Homo sapiens: one gene and its partners. The protein of the gene in region 1 purifies or fractionates together with the protein of each later gene. This does not show direct contact. Each region holds a gene or a part of one and is shown in the gene's direction. Other genes may lie near its edges.

Evidence for each region.
Region 2: the proteins of ZNG1B (region 1) and IQGAP2 purify together in Homo sapiens (affinity purification with mass spectrometry; one large-scale study listed by BioGRID and IntAct). This does not show direct contact.
Region 3: the proteins of ZNG1B (region 1) and AGAP1 purify together in Homo sapiens (affinity purification with mass spectrometry; one large-scale study listed by BioGRID and IntAct). This does not show direct contact.
Region 4: the proteins of ZNG1B (region 1) and TCERG1 purify together in Homo sapiens (affinity purification with mass spectrometry; 2 studies listed by BioGRID and IntAct, with this or other methods). This does not show direct contact.

What each region holds. Positions count from the first base shown.
Region 1 is NC_000002.12:113,493,191-113,496,690, forward strand, and holds the end of ZNG1B (zinc-regulated GTPase metalloprotein activator 1B), read left to right. Parts: intron 1-566; coding exon 567-635; intron 636-738; coding exon 739-804; intron 805-1,929; coding exon 1,930-2,059; intron 2,060-2,446; coding exon 2,447-2,553; 3' UTR 2,554-3,014; downstream 3,015-3,500. UniProt on the Homo sapiens protein: Zinc chaperone that directly transfers zinc cofactor to target metalloproteins, thereby activating them.
Region 2 is NC_000005.10:76,693,285-76,696,784, forward strand, and holds part of IQGAP2 (ras GTPase-activating-like protein IQGAP2), read left to right. Parts: intron 1-70; coding exon 71-158; intron 159-2,169; coding exon 2,170-2,382; intron 2,383-3,500. UniProt on the Homo sapiens protein: Binds to activated CDC42 and RAC1 but does not seem to stimulate their GTPase activity. Associates with calmodulin.
Region 3 is NC_000002.12:236,036,043-236,039,542, forward strand, and holds part of AGAP1 (arf-GAP with GTPase, ANK repeat and PH domain-containing protein 1), read left to right. Parts: intron 1-518; coding exon 519-673; intron 674-3,500. UniProt on the Homo sapiens protein: GTPase-activating protein for ARF1 and, to a lesser extent, ARF5. Directly and specifically regulates the adapter protein 3 (AP-3)-dependent trafficking of proteins in the endosomal-lysosomal system.
Region 4 is NC_000005.10:146,506,333-146,509,396, forward strand, and holds part of TCERG1 (transcription elongation regulator 1), read left to right. Parts: intron 1-695; coding exon 696-875; intron 876-1,300; coding exon of another isoform or gene 1,301-1,408; exon of another isoform or gene 1,409-1,446; intron 1,447-1,540; coding exon 1,541-1,624; intron 1,625-2,812; coding exon 2,813-2,913; intron 2,914-3,064. UniProt on the Homo sapiens protein: Transcription factor that binds RNA polymerase II and inhibits the elongation of transcripts from target promoters. Regulates transcription elongation in a TATA box-dependent manner.

The sequences.
Region 1 (3,500 bases):
AGTTAAAGATAAGCCAAGCCTTTCTTTTGTATTTTTTTTTTAAGAGAACAAATTTACTTTGGTTTTGAGTTTTATTCCTGGCCCTGGGTAGCTTATTTTTTTGACCCTTATTTTCCCCAATTTATAAAATGAAATAGTTATCTTCACTCCCCAGGATTGTTGTGAAGAGTAAGTCAAAAGATAAAATGAGGTGACTCAGGCAAAAGTACCTGGCCCTGTGTAGTGAGTACATTGTATGTGTTACATATATTCTTATTGCTGAGAATCCACGAAAGAATGAATTAAATAATGAGGACCCTTTCATCAGGGTTTTTGAGTGAGTTTTTTAAAATACAAGGTAGTAGTTTGTGTAAATACTAAATCCATTGGTACCTGTGCAGAATGTAGGAAATGGAGTTGCTAATTCCAAAAAAACAGCACATATGCTGAGGAAAGTATAATACCTAATATATATGGTTTAAGCAATGTAAAATTCCATGAATATGTTCCTTTTCATCTTAAAATTTGTGATTTAAAAAACATTGATATTACTATAAAGAATTATTGTTATTTCCCTTGATTTACAGAGTATTGTTACAATCACATTTGAAGTACCAGGAAATGCAAAGGAAGAACATCTTAATATGTTTATTCAGGTGAATGCAATTTTTAACTGATAAATGATTTATCAATGGTTTTGTTACATAGTTGTTGCTATTAGCGATGGTTGGTCTTATTAAAATATGTCACTTGATACAGAATCTCCTGTGGGAAAAGAATGTGAGAAACAAGGACAATCACTGCATGGAGGTCATAAGGCTGAAGGTACAGTTTACTGTTGCAGACTTTCGGACAAAGTCCTTTTCTTGGCTGTTATAAAAACTATATTTGGTTTTAAACAGAAACACTGGTTTTAGTACAAATCATCTTTGTCTACTTTCATTTTTCTTTATTATTTTCATGACTGAAAAGGAGCTTTGGAAATCACTGCATAAGGCTTGATTTATTTGCACAACTTTCTTTAGGGTTGCAGCTAGAACAAACCTGTGTGCTTTGAAATGTTACCTTCTGCTCTCTGTTCCCAAGTACAGAGAAATAATGTTGCAAATCTCACTTCTGCTGAACATTATGCTTCCTGATGCATTTAGCAGACACTAAACATTTGTCATACTCTAAACAAAGTTACAAAGGACTAGAAGAATTCTTGTTCTGTATTTAGAAACCCACTCACGTTACTTGATATTTGGGTATTTAAGTCATGAAAGGTATTTCTTCTAGGAAGCAGTGATTCTAAAGTGTATGCTTAACCAGTCAGTTGAGTGTCTACTCTTGTGTGTTCACAAGTGTGCACAAAGTTTTTGGTAAATTAAGAATATTATTTCAAATAAATTAATTTCATCCCCATAGGAGCCAGTTTATCAGATAATTCATTTTTCATTTCTGCAAATCAATACACAATGAGCTCATATTCAGATAAATATAATAGTTTTTCTTTATTTCATCATTGTTCATTGATTGCAACCCATTTCTAAAACAAATTATTTAATATAATCAAACTCCTTTAACTTCTCAACTTTTCCCACTAAAACTGTGAAACATTATATAAAATCTTTAATCAATAGGATATGATACATATTTCATCATTTTGTTTCAGGTTTTGGTTGTGATAAATAACACTGAAAAACCATCCTAATATATGTATTAACTTTATCATTAGAAAAGGGGATTGTTCAAAAAAAAATCAATACACAGAAACCTTTTTTGAAAATTAAAAACATTAAGAAACTTCTTGTAATTCACAAATAATTGGAATTAAGTAATTTTCTCAGCTTAAGAGTTTGTATTTTTTAAGTGAATATCAGTAATTAATCCATTAACATTGATGCTCTATTTCTGCTTTTAAGTTTGAACTGAGGCTGATTAATGTTCAGTCAATTCTCCTTTGAGCAGGGATTGGTGTCAATCAAAGACAAATCACAACAAGTGATTGTCCAGGGTGTCCATGAGCTCTATGATCTGGAGGAGACTCCAGTGAGCTGGAAGGATGACACTGAGAGAACAAATCGATTGGTCCTCCTTGGTAAGTCTGAAAGGATTCACAGTTTTAAAACAAAGTGAAAAATATATTTGAAAGGGATATCATGTGCCACTCAAACAGATTAACCATTCAGGTCCTCTTTTAAAACTAAATAAGCTTGTGGTCAATGTTTCATCTTTATCACGTTACAACGTTCGTAAAAGCTTGTTAGGACTTTTGTTCTTCTTCAGTTTTAGAAAAGTGGTTAATCCAAGGACCAATGTGACTTTGATGTACTGACCTGGAAAGTTAAAGATGGAATCACTCAATTACTATTCTTTTTGTAAATTTCTAAACACCATAAAGCATTTAATGAACTGGAATTGATAGGTGAACTGTGTCATTTTAATAAGCATAATGTAATCACGTCATATTTTGTTTTGTTTGCAGGCAGAAATTTAGATAAGGATATCCTTAAACAGCTGTTTATAGCTACTGTGACAGAAACAGAAAAGCAGTGGACAACACATTTCAAAGAAGATCAAGTTTGTACATAACACTAGAGGCATTTCTTATCAAAAGGATTGGATAATAAAAATAAGTTTCTACTGGGTATATTTCAAGCATTTATTTATTACTTTAGTTACGAATTCCAATATACTTTAAAATGGTATTTGTTTTACAGCATACATAAAATGTAGCAAATCGGTACTGTAAAACATTTAACATTCATACAGTTATATATAATATCCTTTTTTTTAAAGAATGGTATTTCACAAAAATGTCTTTTGAAATTGGCTTTGGAGTTTACATATACTGAACATGAAAGTTTATAATAATGATGATACAACTTTCAACATTGTCATTTTTTCTTAGAACTTCAGCTGATTGCAGAGATATAATGATTACATTGTTATTAAATTTTTTTAACACAAGTAAGTGTCACCATTTTATGACATGAAATAAAAGGTTATGACTGTTATTGATGTTGATGTTGACGACCTGATCACCTGGCTGAAGGAGTGTTTGTCAGGTTTCTCCATTGTAAAGTTACTCTTTTCCCCCATTTCATACTGTGCTCTTTGGAAGGAAATCACTATGCACAGCCCACACTAAAGGAATGGGGAGTTGTAGTGTACTTTTTTGGGAGTGGTCTACATAATTAATTGAAATTCTTCTGCAAAGGACAGTTGTCCCTTTCGCTTTATTAGTTCGATCATTTATGTTTATCAGTGTGGACACATGAATATTTTATACTTTGGGTTACAATTTAATACTGCTTTATTTTGTTGCTCAAATTAGCCCAGCTTTGACCATTGGGAACTCTTTCCGTTATCTCCTGTTCCCGCCTTTGACATGCCCCCATCAATGTGGGTTTCCGTTATCTCCTGTTCCCGCCTTTGACATGCCCCCATCAATGTGGGTTTCCGTTATCTCCTGTTCCCGCCTTTGACATGCCCCCATCAATGTGGGTTTCCGTTATCTCCTGTTCCCGCCTTTGACA
Region 2 (3,500 bases), on another chromosome or scaffold:
TTAGGAGAAACAGATTTTTGTGCATAAGGACTACAGTCTGAAAGTCTGTCTCTTTCTCTGGTTTGTTAAGGACCAAGAAGCTGATAATTGATGTGATCCGGAACCAGCCAGGGAACACATTGACAGAAATCTTAGAGACACCAGCAACTGCGCAACAGGTAATTTGACTTTAAGTGTAAAATAATAATAGACAGGTGTTGATTTTCTTCATAAATCTTTATGCCATATGTTTATTATCTCAGAGAAACTGTATCTGACATGGTCCGGAAGTAAGGAATTTTATCTATTACTGCAGTGGACTTAGTTCAGCCATATATAAACCTGTATGAAGTATCAATGGGAATGAAATAGAAAATACAGCACCAAATTCATGCCGAATATACTTTTGTCTTAACCTAGGATGATAGTTCTGGGTTTTTCAAAGCCCGGAAATGTTCATCATAATGGGCAAATAAGTCAGTTGAGAGAGTTCTAGCTGACAGGATATTGAAAAATACCTTTCACATTTTATGTATTTACTAACTTGAAACAAATAAGCGACTCACATGTTAAAGATGTTTTCCAAATGCTTCAGAAGCAAATGTTGAGTCCACTGAGTCAAAGCATCATTATGTTAGCGTAAGTGAGGTTTCACAACAATCTTGCATTTAGCTTTTTATTAACATCTTTGAAAATACGTCATTGTTCGTTCTAAAATAAATTCAAGGTTGTTATTTTAGTACCAATAATTGCCGCTCCCTAAACAAAAGTTAATTATTTAATTAACTATTTCTTAGCACAGCTACACATAATTTTCCTGGATCATTCTTAATTTAATTGATTGCCAAGGAATCCTTGTAATAGTTTTTAATTTAAAAAATATAAAAGGCTGGGCATGGTGGCTCATGTCTGTAATCCCAATACTTTGGAAGGCTGAGGTGTGTAGATCACTTGAGCCCAGGAGTTCAACACCAGCCTGGACAACACAGTGAGACCCCCATCTCTAATTTTTAAAAATTTTTAATAAAAAATGTAAAGCAAAACTTCAAATCACACGTTTGTTAATATGTGGGTATGTTTTAAACAATGTGGGTAAAATATTATACTAGGTTAGTATAAAAGACTTTTACTCCTTACTATTTTTCATTTTCCCCTAAATGTATCATGAATAAGTGACTAAGAACACAGACTTCTGAGATCAACTATACCTCTGCACCTCCTAGGTGTGTAACTCTGTGCACTTAGAAGCATTGCTGTGCCGCAGTTTCCTCAACTGTAAAATGGGTATAATAATAGTACCCAGCTCACAGGCAGGATTAAGTCAATTAAACATGTTAAGTGGGTACATCTGTATCTGGTGCACATTAAGTGCTCAACAATGTTGGCTGCTGCTTTTGTTATTTACTGCTAACCTGGTAATAATGTTCCAATAATATTGACCTACCTGTCCTGTGTCTAAGATTACTGTCCCTAACTAATAGTCGTTTCCTTAGACTTCATCTATTGGGTCAGTCAATTGTCTAGTACAATGAAATGGGAAGACCAATAGTCTCTTTTTGTTACTGTTTCCTTGAACAGACTATCCAAAGAGTATTCATTCATTCATTCATTTACTCATCGTTTGGGAATTTATAATGTGCTAGAATATTCTTATTCCCTTTGGCTCAAAGAAACTTTGCAAGTTTTTCAGAGTTGCTGGTTTGTGATTCCCTTATAAGAATAAAGCTCTCTGACTGCCTTACTGTTGGTTTAGTTTAGGACTCTCCATAAACATGGCTGATGTGTGAGAGTTTAGCTGGGTTCTGAACATTCAGGGTTCTCATAGCCACATTTCAATAGGTAATCTAGTTTTAGTTTCCTCAGCTAGCCTATCCAGGAATTGAAATCCTTCCATGTGGGGAACAAAGTAGCAGTTATCCATTAAAATATGTCCATTACTATAGTGATTTGTCACCTTGGCAATAAAGTAGCTATTGAGAATTTTTCCCAAATAAGGCTTGCTATCGAAAAGATGAAGTAATTCCTTTCAAAGACCTACTTCAAAACTCAGGAAGAACATGTTCTGGTTCTAGTCTCTGAACTTTGGCTGGAGGACTACTTTCATTTTGACATTAACTTGCATTGTGTAGCTTATGAACTGTGAAATTAGGGGATCAGAGAAAACTCAGCATCTTGATATTCTCTTTTCAGGAGGTAGACCATGCCACGGACATGGTGAGCCGTGCAATGATAGATTCCAGGACTCCAGAAGAAATGAAGCATAGCCAATCTATGATTGAAGATGCACAGCTGCCTCTTGAGCAGAAGAAGAGGAAAATCCAGAGGAATCTTCGGACGTTGGAACAGACTGGACACGTGTCATCCGAAAATAAATACCAAGACATTCTCAATGAGATTGCCAAGGTTTTTGGAAACAGTATTCTTTCTTCCTTCACTTAGCAGACATTTGCTAATCACCAGTCAAGTGCTGGGCACTCTGTGAGGTGGCATTAGGGATTCATGGTTGCATATGCTGTGGTTACTGCCCTCTTCAATGCTACAGATTTTTCAAGGTTTCAAAGCAGTTGATGACTTTTTTTTTTTTTTTTTTTTTTTGAGTTGGAGCCTCGCTCTGTTGCCCAGGCTGGAGTGCAGTGGCACAATCTCGACTCTCTGCAACTTCCGCCTCCCAGGTTCAAGCGATTCTCCTGCCTCAGCCTCCTGAGTAGCTGGGACTACAGGCACGCACCACCACGCCCAGCTAATTTTTGTATTTTTAGTAGAGACGGGGTTTCACCATGCTGGCCAGGCTGGTCTCGAAATCCTGACCCGGTGATCCACCGGGGCCTCCCAAGCAGTTGATGACTTTTAAGAGAAAACAATCACAACACTTTCATGTCATTAGGAGAGTTGAAACAGACCAGAAATAAATACTAAAAAATGTACTTGACAAGTTTGGTCTATACCTTTAAAGTTTTAAAAATAACACTATTGGAAGAGTTTTCTCCTGAGATGTTAGTTGTCATATAGCTCAGTTGCTCTTAGAACCTGCCACTGAGATGGAACTCTGTGTCCCTGATCATTTGTTTTTAAGCAATTTAGCCTAAATGCAGTTCAGACTTGAAGATTAGTTTCTGTTTTCTTATCCAATATTTTTACACTTGAGAAACTTCCTGAGCAAAGGATCTCAACTTAGTGCAATGAAACATCACAGGAAGTGGCTGAGATCTGTTTGTCAAGGATAAGGAAGTATATATTTGGGTTAGAAGGATATTTCATTCTTTTTATTCAAACATGCAAATTAATATGGATCTAGAGGTTAAAGGCAGTTAAATGACCAGAAAAAAAAAAAATTTCTCACCTTCTGGAAGGGAAATGCGCTCAGCTTTGTTCTTTGATAGAAAATTATGTTCAATTCTGGCAGTAGGCTTATTCCTTCTAGCCCAAGTGACTCAAGGGAAATAACATTTCTTTCTTTAGTTTGGGGGTAGAAATATTTCTATTTGGGAATATGGGGTAGATAAATATATGCTTTTGCTTTA
Region 3 (3,500 bases), about 120 Mb from region 1:
TCCCTGTCTGAAAACGTGGGAATTGATGCCTCTCCCACGGTAACAGGTCCTCTGCCATAAAAGAACAGAACCTTCCCGCGTTCCTCTATCCATGGAGTGTCTGTGGATCTACGCGAGTGCTTAGATAGAAATTAACCCTGCAGCCGGAGATTAGCGGCCCTAACTTAATTTTCGTCCCACAGATAAGGATGGTCAGCCATGAGTTACATGGTTATTCTCCTAAGTTGCTTTGTGTGTGCACCACACAGAGACGCTGACATCACTCGTTGATTTCATCTGGCCTTGTGCCCTGAGCCTTGATTGAAACCTGGCTAAGTCATGCTGGCCTTAGGAACCACATCTGGACTGTTGGGAGGTGCATGGATTCAAATCTCCGCCGCCGTGGTTGTCCAGTGCCGTGCGCCTCACCGGTCCATGCAGGGGCAGCTGAACCCAGAGGCGCTTCTGTGACAGAGGGCCCGCAGGGGGACTGCTGTCTCATAAAAGCTAAACTCTTCATCCCACACTCTGTGTTTCAGAACAAGAAGAAAATTTTGAGTTTATCATTGTGTCCCTCACTGGCCAAACATGGCACTTTGAAGCCACGACGTATGAGGAGCGGGACGCCTGGGTCCAAGCCATCGAGAGCCAGATCCTGGCCAGCCTGCAGTCGTGCGAGAGCAGCAAGAACAAGGTGAGGCCCCTGGCTGCCCAAAACCAAGGCTGGGGCTGCTCAGGGGGAGTGCGGGCCCCAAGTAATGCCCCAGGGAGGAGAAAATAGAGGACCAGTGTGAATGACAGGACCTAGCTATTCTTTATGAGCAGAAAGCTCAATAACTAAAACGATCAGAAGCACTTTGTGTCTATACCATCATACATGAGTATTCCAGCCTGACCGTGCTTCCCTGGCAGGAGAGCCAAGGTTAAATCTTCAGTCTGTCAGCCAATCCCAGAGGGAATCTTTTGGACTCTTGTGGCTTCTGGGTCCACATTTATTTTTGTTTTGGACAGAATACACTCAGAAAAAAAGAGAGACGGACTTAAAAGATGCACTGTTCAAGTAAATGCCCAGAATTCAAATCGACATCAAGTTGGAAAACCGTCTCTTGTTAGGGACATAAATGAAAAGTAGATGGGTCTGTATGAGCGTGCAGGGAGTTTGGGAAGATAAAGTTTCTATTATCTAAACTGATAAAGCCTGGTATGTGTTTTATTCAATAATTAGAGGTGGTGGTGCAGCTCTTTTAGAATTTGTCCAGCAGGTTTTCTGGTTCTCACCAGAAAACGCCACCCCCAAATGTTTCTATATTAAAAAAATAATGAGAGGCAATTTGTTTTTTGTAGTTACTTAGCTAGAAAAGGAAAAATATTTTAACCTGTATTTTTTTTTCCTTTGGAGAGAGTCTATCTCTGTCACCTAGGCTGGAGTACAGTGGCACAATCTTAGCTCACTGCAACCTCCAAGCTCAAGCAATCCTCCCACCTCAGCCTCCTGAGTTGCTGGGACTACAGGCCTGGCTTGCTTGCTTATTTATTTGTATATTTATTTATGTAATATATATTATTTGTGGAGGTGGGGTTTCATCACGTTGCCCAGGCTGGTCTCAAACTCTTGGGCTCAAGCGATCCACCTGCCTCAGACACCCAGAGTCCTGGGATTACAGGCATGAGCTACCACGCCTGGCTTAACCTGTGTTCTCTAGGCTACTGCCCAGTGATGTTCCTTCTACAAAAGTCCTTTTTCCCATCAAGGATTGCTTCAGTTTCATTATTTTAATGTTTGTTTGTCTTTAACCTCTTTGCTGGGACGTCTTAGACTTTTGGAGAGCATTTTGATATTTCAGACTATGATCAACTAGAAACTAAGAGAAAGGATGTTACCCACCGACCTGCAGTTTCATTTGTAACCATTTAAAGAAATTTCTGCCTATGATTTATGTGCAGCTTTGTCACTAAAAAGAGAGTCTGTCTTTCAGAAAGATGAAGTGTCTTATTTTATTACCCTCTTTAACCAGGGTAAACCAGACCACAGTCATTATTATTATAATGTAATTTGCTTCCCTTTTTAAAAGATGTTTTATACTCAAGGTGGGGAGAACCACTGCCTTTCATTCCATACACCCTGGCTTTACTGGGTCACGTCCACATGCATCCATGATGTGCCTCCTGAAACGAGCACAGGGTGCTTTGGGGCCACCTCAATGGGAAGCAACAGCACACAGCATCCTCCAAGCGTGGGCAGCTCATTCTGAGAAGGAAGGCAGGGAGGCAGGCTGTGTTACCGAACAGAGAGGCACAGGTTCCTGCCTTCATGGAGAAATCACAGTCTTTCACGGCAGACTCTGAGCCCCTGCCACCTCGACCTAATTCAGGAAGATCTGGGATGGTGGCAGCCTTTCCCATTCCACACCTTGCCAGGCTCCTCCTGACTCGTGTCTCAGCTCATGCACACACCAGCCTTAGAATGCTGCCCTCGGCCCTCACTAGGCGCCTGTTCTCCAGGGAATTGCTCCCTTGGGAGGAGGACGCGTTGAGCAACCAAAGGTGGCCGACTCAGAGCTGGTCATCGTGGGCATTGGTTGAACAGGTGTGAGGGCATAAAACATGGAAATACTGTCCACAAGGAGTAGCGGGAGGCAAAAATACAGGCCCAGTTGACCACCAGCTTTATAGTATTTTACCTGCCAGTGGATAATTGAGAGCTGATACAGGTATAGGCATAGCTAGACAGACAGACAAACCAACCAACCACAGAAATGATACAGGTACACAGAGAGACAGAGGCACATCCCTTTGTATGTGTGTGTGTGTGTGTGTGTGTGTGTGTGATCACACACTTGCATTCCAGATGCCAGTGTAAACTGTTTAAACATATTTTGAATACTTGGGTATCTAACCAAAGGGAATTAAAATTCAATAACGCATGATGCTAATTAGACAGTAGTGATTAATACATTATAATTTATTATGTAGCAAGTAATATATTATTTCACATCAATTTGATGAGATGTTTCAATTTATGAAGAATTCTTACGCAAAAATCAAGCTTATTGTAACTGTCCTCTGAAATTGATCAATTTTTGCTTTAACCATAATATTAAATGCATACTTAATAAATAAGCCTCAAAAACACTACATATCAGCCAGACACGATGGTTCACGCCTGTACTCCTAGTGCTTTGGGAGGCTAAGGTGGGAGGATCACTTGAGGCAAGGAGTTCGAGACCAGCCTGGCCAACATAGGGAGACCATTGTCTCTACAAAAAAATTTTTAAATAGCCAGGTGCATGGTTCACACCTGTAGTTCCAGCTACTCAGGAGGCTGAGGTGGGAGGACCACTTGAGCCCAGGAGATGGAGGCTGCAGTGAGCTATGATTGCACTACTCCAGCCTGGGCAACAGAGCAAGACCCTCTCTCTAGGTGGGGAAAAAGGTACATATCCAGTACATATCCTTTCACTTAGAACTTCTACTTCCAGGAATCTATTCTTAGTAAATAATCATGAGTGTGTACCAAGACT
Region 4 (3,064 bases), on another chromosome or scaffold:
AGCCAGACCTGTTATGCCTTCTATTATACTGTCTTCTTCTTAAAAATTGTTTTGAGAAGTCATAATTGTATATACTTACGGGGTACAGTTGCTGTTTTGATATAGGTAGATAATATGGAATGATTAAACCAAAGCTGTTTAACATATTCATCACTTTGTTTGCTTATAATTTTTTGTGGTGAGACACTTGGAATTTACTCTCAGTTATTTTGAATGTAGAATACATTATTGGCTTTAGTTAACCCTGGTGTGCAGTAGGTCTCAAAACTTATTTCTGCTGTCTCTGAAACTTCATTATCTTTGACAAGTAACTCCTCATTCTCTCCCTTGTCCTGTCTCCTACCCCCTAGACTTTGGTGACCATCTACTCTCTATTTCTATGAGTTCAACTTTTTTGGATTCCACAAATGTGAGACTATGCAGTATTTGTGTTTCTGTGCTTGACTTATTTCACTTATGTTGTCCTCTAGGTTTATCCATGCCATAAATGAATAGAATTTTCCTCTTTTTTTAAGGCTGAGTGGTACTCCATTGTGTATATTTATTACATTTTCTTTATCCATGTATCTGTTGATAGACACTTAGGTTGATTCCATATCTTGGCTATTGTGAATAATGCTGCAGTGGACATGGAAGTGCAAATGGACATTCAGATAAGTCTCTTTGGTGATATATATATAATTTTTTCTCTTCAGGTACGTTCTTCAGATGTGTCATGGTCTGATACTCGTAGGACCCTCCGAAAAGATCACCGCTGGGAATCTGGATCCTTATTGGAAAGAGAGGAGAAAGAGAAGCTTTTTAATGAACACATTGAAGCACTTACCAAAAAAAAGAGAGAGCACTTTAGGCAACTTCTGGATGAAACTTCTGCAGTAAGAATCTCTTATTTTTCTCATTTTAATCTGGATGAATCTTGTTAGTAATTTCTTAAAGCAAAGCATTGATATGATTTTTAGTGTCATGGTCTTTAGATTCATTACTGGAATGCATCTTATGACAATTCTCTGATTTTAAAAAATTATGGTATTCTTATTTATTTAGAAATGCCTATTCTTTGCAGTTTTCACATTCATAACTGCTCCCATAGTAATTCAAAATGTCCTTAGCCATGTGGTCAGTGATCCCTCCTAATAATAGATTTAGCAAATTTCTTCTTTTGATCCATTTTCAATTTGGTACTATGGCCTCTTGTTCGGCAGTTTGTACGCTTTGTTATCCAGGTTTTGTTCCTTTTTATTTGCTCTCTTTTTGGTGATGGTTTCTTCAGAAGTTATGATGTTTGCCCATGTAAATACAGGGTTTGCAGGTGATTGTCTTAGGCCACCTTGAAAGTATGGCCATGAAAATAACTCTTGTGGCAAGCCAACAAAAAGAAATTGCATTAACGCTGCTTCCCTGTCCCTAACTAGTCCAGTTACGCTTGGGCATTACAAGAGATCGCAGGTCAGTGTGTAATATTATGTACCTATGTGCTGCAGTTTGACTCCCTAAGTAAAAGTGAGTTGTATTTATGTTTTTTATTCATGTCTTTTCAAAGATTACCTTAACATCCACGTGGAAAGAAGTAAAAAAAATCATTAAGGAAGATCCTCGATGTATTAAGTTCTCCTCCAGTGACAGGGTAAGAGGATTTTGTGTCGAGATTTACTGTCAGTCTATAAATACTTAAATCGGGGCCTAACAGCACTACTATCTTAACCAAAATGAAGTTGATTGTTTTAAGTGAATTACTTTTAAGTGTATGAGAAGTAAATCTGAATTTTAAGTTTATGTATTGTTTCTTGCATGATAAATTAGCAAGACAGCACAATAGAAAGTTTAAAATTTTAGTACTTGGGGTGAAGCTTGTATTTTAGGATCTTAGAAATTTAATGAAGCTGCAGTTTTATTTTAGTCAGGTACCACTAGACAGACATATTTAGGCTGGCAATTGGTACCAAACTATCAAAGCACTTGACTCTTAAGCCAAACAGAGCCCTGTAATGAGATCGCTAGTTCTCATATGCTTCAAGGTCTGAAACAGTGAATGATGTCAAGAAAAGTGTTGTTTACTACAGTCCATTTTATCCCTAGGCCTTTTATTTGTTTTCTTTTACATCATTCCCCTTTCCTGGTTGGTTTCTGTAGGTCTGGGCATCTTTTATAAAAACTCATAAATCTAATATTCTTCCCCCTCAAAGTCTATTGGATTGTAGATGTTTGGACCATAAAATATGCATGACTGGGAAAGAGGGGTAGACCCAGTCTCAGTTTCTAACTTTTCTGACTGTTTAGAATTGATAATAAAGTCTTTTTTAAGTCCAAAGAGTTTATTCATCTTATTACTTTTGGCTTGCCAGAAAGCTAAATGCTCATTACTGTGTAAGTTAAGTATTGAGTGTTAACCTACAGTTGCTGTATCCACAAATTACTCTTTTTGTTCTTGAAGTTAAAAATACAGTGTGCAGGAAGTGAACACTTAATCCTTAATATCCTTATTTTTAAGTGTCCACCTCATGAGGTTGTTGTGAAGATTGAAGTAGATGATCCTCATAAAATGCTCAGCAGTGTAGCACATAGCAAGTTCTCAAGTTTTAGCCACTACTAATTTATGATTCCTCATTCTTTCTATTTGCCGCAAAAATGAGCCTTGCAAATTGTGATTTAATGAATTTTATATATGAACAAAATGTACCCTGTTGCCTTTTTCTTTTGAATTTTAAATTTTATTATGTGACTTACACATTACTGTTTAATAAATAATTGATGTTTATTTTGGAATTAGTGGGTTTTATTTCCATAATCTCAACTTTTTTTTTTTTATTAACAGAAAAAACAAAGAGAATTTGAAGAATATATCAGAGACAAATATATCACAGCCAAAGCTGACTTCAGGACGCTTTTGAAAGAGACCAAATTTATAACATATAGGTGTGTGCAATGAAATGTTTCATATTGGCAGTCATTCTCTTTACTAGTCTTTACTCTAATGGTCAGAGCATTCTTTGCATTCACACACATGTTGACATTATTAATTTTTAGGGATAAGAAGATACCAACTTCTGTCCAAAGTCAAATACAG